Homo sapiens: one gene and its partner. The protein of the gene in region 1 interacts with the protein of each later gene in a biochemical or structural test. Each region holds a gene or a part of one and is shown in the gene's direction. Other genes may lie near its edges.

Evidence for each region.
Region 2: the proteins of LEP (region 1) and CD33 interact in a biophysical measurement, tested with the Homo sapiens proteins (one study listed by IntAct).

Annotation. Positions count from the first base shown.
Region 1 is NC_000007.14:128,244,239-128,248,056, forward strand, and holds part of LEP (leptin precursor), read left to right. Parts: intron 1-3,818. UniProt on the Homo sapiens protein: Key player in the regulation of energy balance and body weight control. Once released into the circulation, has central and peripheral effects by binding LEPR, found in many tissues, which results in the activation of several major signaling pathways.
Region 2 is NC_000019.10:51,227,840-51,231,657, forward strand, and holds part of CD33 (myeloid cell surface antigen CD33 isoform 1 precursor), read left to right. Parts: intron 1-3,818. UniProt on the Homo sapiens protein: Sialic-acid-binding immunoglobulin-like lectin (Siglec) that plays a role in mediating cell-cell interactions and in maintaining immune cells in a resting state.

The DNA of each region.
Region 1 (3,818 bases):
AGACCCTGACACACACACACACACACACACACACACACACACAGATTAGAGCTGAAACAGGAGTAGAAACCTATCTGTATCTCTGATGAGATCAGATCTTTCTGATGAACAGAAAGAATGTAACCCCTGTACTCACACCCTCTCTGCTGGTTACATATGTTAACACGATTTCTCAAATGAGGCTTTTGGTTGCAAATAAGAGAAAATCACTCACGCTGGCCCTGTGTTTTTCAAATTGTTTATTGTGATCAACATTTGAAAAAAGAGCCGAGACTCTCAAGAGTGCATTACCCACGGTAAGGGTGAATTTTACTTCTTGACACTTATTTCTCTTACATGTATCTATCTGTCTCAAATGAAAAATATATTTAGAAAGTTGAAAGCTATCCAAGTGAGTATAAGAAAAGAGTATCTCACCCTGAAGGCTAAGGACAGGGAGGGCCACCAGGCCTCACGAGGACCCAGGAACCACAAAGAAGGCTAGGAAGGAGCACAGGCGGTGACCATACTCTGGCTCAGTGGCTATGTGGGCTCTGGTCTCTCTCAGCTGTTCCATGCATATGAGGCCAAATGTGGCTACCCTAGAGCTTCTGAGCCCTCAACAGAGATGAACTGGACTCTCTGCAGCCCCACTCTAAATTCCTAAGAGAGAAGTTGATTGACCCAATCAGGGTCAGGAGAAGGAAGGGAGGAGGAAAGGGAGGAGAGAAGAGCCTCTTCGTCTCTTGCCTACCACTGGCCAGGCAATTGTAGCCAAGGGGGCTGGAGTGTAAATGCAAACATAGCCATCAAGGGTTGTGTATGTGTGTGTGTGTGTCTGTGTGTGTGTATGTGTGTCTCTTGGGTAGGTTAGATCTCCCAGGAGGTCCCTACTAAACAGACTTAAGCCCGCAAAATTTTAGCTCTCCAGCCTCACACACTCCACCCCTCTACCATATTGAATCTTCCCAAACCAACTATGGCTTTCCCTAACTCCGGAGCTTGGCCTGGAATGCCCTGCTTCCCCTCTTTCCCCTGGGGAACGCCTGTCCTTCAGGCCTCAGTTCACACACTGCCTCCCTTGCAAAGCTCTCCTCCCATCCCCGGAGTCCCTCTTCCCCTTTGTTCTTTGGGTTCTATGCTTCTTCCCTCATAACTCCCACCAGGTTGTGTTAAAATGAGTTGTTCAAGGTCCTGTCTGTTCCACTAGATTCTGAGCAACTTGGAGAACGAAGATCCAAACTTCGCTGCCTTTATTTCCTCCTTTGTTCTTTTCTCATCCCCAAGTCCCTTCCAACTTGGAGTTATGAAGAAAGGAAGGAAGGAAGGGTGGGAGGGAAGAACAGGAGGGGATCCCACAGGAGAATGTGTATAGGGAGAGGACTCAGACTAGCTAAAGCTTTTCCCTCATAATTAATAGCAAATACCATGTTACCTGAATTTAATTCACAGTAGCATACAAAAGACTCGCTTTGTTCTCCCCATTGATGTCATCAGAGGGCTGTGGGCAGGCCTAATCTTGGCTCAGGAGGCCCTCCAGCCTGGATCTAAAGAGCAGCAGATGGGCCAGGCTCGGTGGCTCATGCCTGTAATCCCAGCATTTTGGGAGGCCGAGGCGGGTGGATCACGAGGTCAGGAGTTTGAGACCAGCCTGGCCAAGATGGTGAAGCCTCGTCTCTACTAAAAATACAAAAATTAGCCAGGTGCGGTGGTGGGCGCCTGTATTTCCAGCTACCCGGGAGGCTGAGGAGGCTGAGGCAGGAGAATCGCTTGAACCCGGGAGGCGGAGGTTGCAGTGAGCCGAGGTCACGCCACTGCACTCTAGCCTGGGCAACAGAGCAAGACTCCGTCAAAAAAAAAATAAAAAAATAAAAAAATAAAAAAAATAAAGAGGAGCACACATCTCTGCCCATCCTAACTCCCACTTTGACATTGAGGTCCCCAGGATGGAGGGTCTGCCTCCATCTGCCTTGTCCCCTGCAATGGTGGGAAGGTGATGGAGCTCAAGTCTAGAGGCCACCAGCTTCTTAGGGAGGTAGGAGGTGGAGGGTGGGGTGCGGGCCCTGCACACAACTGCCAAGTGAGGATGGGGGTGGGGTCCACCTGAGGATAAGTAACAGTGAGGCTGGTGCAGAGGACCCAGGTGGAGGTAGACAGCAGAATTTGTGGTGGGGTGGATGGCACATTATATAAGCCTCTCTTGCTGCCCTGTTTACTGAGATTGTTTCATTATCTTTTTTGGCTTTTGTTTTTAAGAGATGGGGTCTTGCTGTGTCACACAGGCTGGAGTGCACTGTGTGATCATACCTCACTGCAGCCTCGACATCCTGGGCTCAGGCAAACCTCCCACCTTGGCCTCCCAAGTAGCTGGGACCACAAGCGTTTGCCACCACACTCAGCTATTTTTATTTTTATTTTTATTTTTTTTAGAGATGGGGTCTTGCTGTGTCGCCCAGGCTGGTCTTGAACTCCTGGGCTCAAGCGATCCTCCTGCCTTGGCCTCCCAAAGCCCTGGGATTATAGGCTGAGCCACCACACCCAGCCACATTTCATCTGTGCAGCTCCAGGGGCTCCACATTCTACTCTTCTCATTTCTTCTCCAGGGTACCCATGGCAAGGGATGAGGGTAGAAGATGGGGCAGCCAGGCCTTGATTAAAGGAGAAGGAAGGCAGCCTGTGGAGAGGGCAGCCCAGGGAGTGCAGAGAGAAGTGGGCCATGAGGGAGACAGCAGAGTGCAGGCTGCGTCCCAAATGAGCATACAGCCCACTGTGAGCCCACCATCTTCCTAGAGACCCCTCTCCTCTCCAGGAGCTGCTTCAGTAGCACTCAGAGGAAAGAATGATGCTGTATCAACATTTCAGCAGCTCATCTTTTAACTCTAAGAAAATGGCAGCTCCTAAATGTTCAAAACTGCTTTGGAAACTTCTGGAGAGAGGTTTTGCAGCTCAGGCAGACAGCTGATCGCGGCCTTTCTTCCACCCCAACCCATGCTCTCCCCATGCTCTCCTGCCACAGCTGCAGCGGGCCCCTGGGTCCTACATTTGCAGCCCTTTGTCTCTGAGCTCAGACTTCCAATTCCAAGCGGCAGCTGGGCAGGCTCACCAGCATGTCCAGCCAGTACTAGGACATCAGCAGGAGCCCAACCACCTCTTTCCAAAATCTCTCCTCATGTCTCTCCTAGTTTCCATCTCCATCCTTCTAGTCAGCCAGGCTGAAAACATTTGCTCCTCAGGGTGCAGAAGGGAAAGCTTTGCCTCCCTTCCTGGTGCTCACTGCCCCTGCGATTCCAGCCCAAGCCCTCCCCGGCTCCTCACCCTGGTGTCAGCTGGAAGCCACCATCTCCTAAACCCACCTGTGTTCTTCCACCTCTGCCAGGGCTGCCCTCTCCTCCACCTTCACAAACTCAATTCCTACCCATTCTCAGGTCCCTTATCAAATGCCATCTCCTCCATGATGCCTCCCTGATTCCCCTGCTGGAAATAATGGTGATAACAGCTAAGGCATTGGGGTTGGCTACGTGCCAGGCAAGGAGTTGGCACTTTACATGCTTTATCTCATTTCAGCCACATAACATCGACAGGTGGCATTATGATTCATATCATCCCCATCTGATAGCCAGGAAAACTGAGTCCCAGAGAGGTTAGCCACTTTCCTAGGGCCCTGTGCTCTGACTCAAGCATAGCTCTGAGGAACTCTAGCATTCATCAGTTTAAGCACCATGACTTTCTTTGCTGAGTCACCCAAGGCATTTCTTCATTTAAATGTTCTTCCTTGGCCAGGCGCAGTGGCTCAGGCCCAATGCGGTGGCTCACGCCTGTAATCTCAACACTTTGGGAGG
Region 2 (3,818 bases), on another chromosome or scaffold:
TTTAAATTTTGTGTCTTATATTCAGGTCTTTGATCCATTTTGAATTGATTTTTGTATAGGACGAGAGGTGTGAGTCTAATGTCATTCTTCTGCATATGGCACCAGTTTTCCCAGCATCATTTATTAAAGAAACTGCTCTTTCCTCAATGAGTGTTCTTCATGCATTTGTCAAAATTCAGTTGGCTGTAGATCGTGGATTAATTTCGGTGTTCTCTATTATGTATTATTGGTGTATGTATCTGCTTTTATGCCAATATCATGCTGTTTTGGTTACTACAGCTTTGTAGTTTTGAAATCTTTAAATTTTTGAAATTTTGAAATTTTCTAGTTTTGAAATTTTGAAATCTTGTAGTGTGATACCTCCAGCTTTGTTCTTTTTTGCTTGGGATTGCTTTGACCATTCAGGCTATTTTTAGTTCCATATGAATTTTAAGATTGTTTCCTCTAATTCTGTGAAGAATTACATTGATATTTTGATAGAGCCAGGTTTGAATCTGTAGATTTCTTTGGGTAGTATAATCATTTTAGCAATATTAATTCATCTGATGAGTAAGGAATGTCTTTCCATTTGTTTGTATCCTCTTCAGTTTATTTCCTCAGTGTTTTGTAGTTTTTCTTATTAAGGCTTGTCACCTCCTTGGTTAAATTTATTCCTAGGTATACTTCATTCTCTTATAGCTATTGTAAATGTGATTGCCTTCCTGATTTATTTTCAGCTAATTCATTGTGTGTAGAAATGCTACTGATTTTTGTATATTGATTTTGCATCCTGCAAATTTACTAAATTCATTTATCAGTTCTGAGAGTTTTATTGTTAGAGTCTTTAGGTTTTTGTTTTGTTTTGTTTTGTTTTGTTTTGTTTTTGAGATGGAATTTCACCATGTTGGCCAAGCTGGTCTTGATCTCCTGGCCTCAAGCAATCTGCCCACTTTGGCCTCCTAAAGTGCTGGAATTACAGGCATGAGCCACCACGCCTGGCCAAGTCTTTAGGTTTTTGTATGTTATTTGCAGAGACAATTTGACTTCCGCCTTTCCAGTTTGGATGGTTTTTATTTCTTTCTCTTGCCTAATTGCTCTGGCTAGGACTTTCAGTACTATGTAAAATAAGAGTCATAACAGTGGACATCCAGTTCCTAGAGGAAAAGATTTCAGCTTTTCTCCATTCAGTATGATGTTAGCCATGGGTTTGTCATATATGGCCTTTTTTGTGTTGAGGTACTTTCCTTCTATACCTAATTTATTGAGAGTTTCTATCATGAAACAATATTGAATTTTAACACATGCTTTTTATTCTGCAACTATTTAGGTGATCATACGGTTTATGTCCTTCATTCTGTTGACATATGTATAACATTTATTGATTTGCATATGTTGAATCATTCTTGCCTTTCTGGGATTAATCCCACTTTATCATGGTATGTTATCTTTTTGATGTATTGTTGGATTTGATTTGCTACTATTTTGTTGAATATTTTTGCATCTATGTTCATCAGGGATATTGGCCTCTAGTTTTCTTTTTTTATTGTCTCCTTTCTGATTTTGGTGTCATGGTTATGCTGGCCTTGTAGAATGAGTTAGGAAGAGTTGCCTCCACTTCAATTTTTTGGAATAGTTTGAGAAGAGTTGGCATAATTTTTTTTTCTTTAAAGGTTCAGTAAAGTTCAGCACTGAAGCCATCCAGCCCTGGAATTTTCTTTGTTGGGGGGCCTTTTATTATTCATTCAATCTCATTACTTGTTGTTTGTCTGCTGAAGTTTTCTATACCTTCTTGATTCAATCTCGGTAGATTATATGTGTCCAGGAACTTATCCATTTCTTCTAGACTTTCAAATTTGTTGGCATATTGTTCATAGTAGTGTCTAAGATCCTGTGTATTTCTGTGGTAACCATTGTGACATCTTCTTTTTTATTTATGATTTTATTAATTTTTATGTCTTCTGTCTCTTTCTTAGTTTAGCTAATGATTGTCAATTTTATTTATTTTTCCAAAAAGCGAACTTGTTCATTGATTTTTTTTTAATTTCATTTATTTCTGCTCTGATCTTTATGATTTCTTTCATTGTGCTGATTTTGGATTTGGTTTGTTCTTGCTTTCTAGTTTCTTGAAATGCACAGTTAAATGGTTTACTTGAAATTTGTCTAATTGTTTGATGTAGGCATTTATTTCTCTCAAGTTGTCTCTTAAAACTGTTTTTGCTGTGTCCCATAGGTTTTGGTATATTTTATTTCTATTTTTATTTATTTTGAGAAATTTTTAAATATCATTCTTAATTTCTTCCTTCACTATTGGTCATTTAGAATCATTTTGTTTCATTTCTGTGTATTTGTATAGTTTGCATGTTTCCCTTGGTATTGATTTTTAGTTTTATTCAATTGTAGTCAAATAAGATACTTGATACATTTTGGTTTTTAAAAATTTTTGGCACTTGTTTTGTGTTCTAACATATGGTCGATCCTTGGGAATGTTGCACATGCTGATGAAACCATGTGTATTCTGCAGCTGTCGGTTGAAATGTTCTGTAAATATCTTAGGTTCATTTGGTATATGGTGCAGTTTAAATCCAACGTTTATTTGTTAATCTTGTCTAGATGATTTGTTCAATGCTGAGAGTGGGGCGTTGAAGTCCTCAACTATTATTGTATTGGAGTCTATCTCTCCCTTTATATCTAATAATATTTGCTTTACATATCTGGGTGCTCTGGTGTTGTGTGCATATGTATTTACAGTTGTTATATTATAGTGCTGAACTGACCCCTTTATAATAATATAATGTCCTTCTTTGTCTCTTTACAGCTTTTGACTTGTAGTCCGTTTTGTCTGAGATAAGTATAGCTATTCCTGCTTCCTTTCATTTCCACTTGGGTAGAATATCTTTTTCCATCTCTTCCTTTTCAGTCTATGTGTGTCTTCTAGGTGAGATAAGTTTCTTGTAAGCAGTATATAGCTGTGTTGGTAGAAGGGCTGAGGCAGGGCTTGCTTGTCTGACATAATGTAAAAGAGTCTTGGAACATGTCCTGGGTCCAGGGTCTCAAACCCCTCGTGGCCTATGGAACACCAAGCTCTGTGCCTAAGGGTGGAAGGCTGCCCTGCCACACTGCAATCTAAGCCCAGGGCATAAAACCCCTCGTGGCTTGGAAAGAATCCAGGGCTCTGGGCATAAAACCCCTCATAGCCTCTGGAATGTGTCCAGACTTGCTGGCCCCTTGCTCCTTGCTCTCCCAGGATCATAAATTGATTGTATCTTGAGTGAAAAGAACTTGTTCTCCATTATTTCAAGTAGCAGAGCATATGCTAAACCGTCACAGCTATGCTTGATGCACCGCTACCTTTCTACCCCAAAGTCCTCACGTTCTCACTTGTCTATCCCCACTTCTGCACGTCCTCACCACCTGCTTCTTTGTTTGATTACCAATAAATAGTGTGGGCTCCCAGAGCTCGGGGCCTTCACAGCCTCCATACTAGCGTCGGCCCCCTGGACTCACTTTATGTACTATTAACTTGTCTTGTCTCATTCCTTTGACTCCGCTGGACTTCGTGGCCCCCACGGCCTAGTGTTGGATCTGATCACCCCAACAAGCTGAGTCTAGATTTTCTTTTCATTCATTCAGGCAGTCCATATATTTTAAATGGGACAATTTAATCCATTTACATACACATTATTATTAATAGGTTATTTTCATTTCATTGATTGTTTTCTGATTGTTTTATATATTCCTGGTTCCTTACTTCCCCTCTTATTGTTTCTTTTTGTGGTTGGCTGATGTTTTTTTTTTTTTTGTAGTGATAAGATTTGATTCCTTTCTCTTTCTTCTTTGTG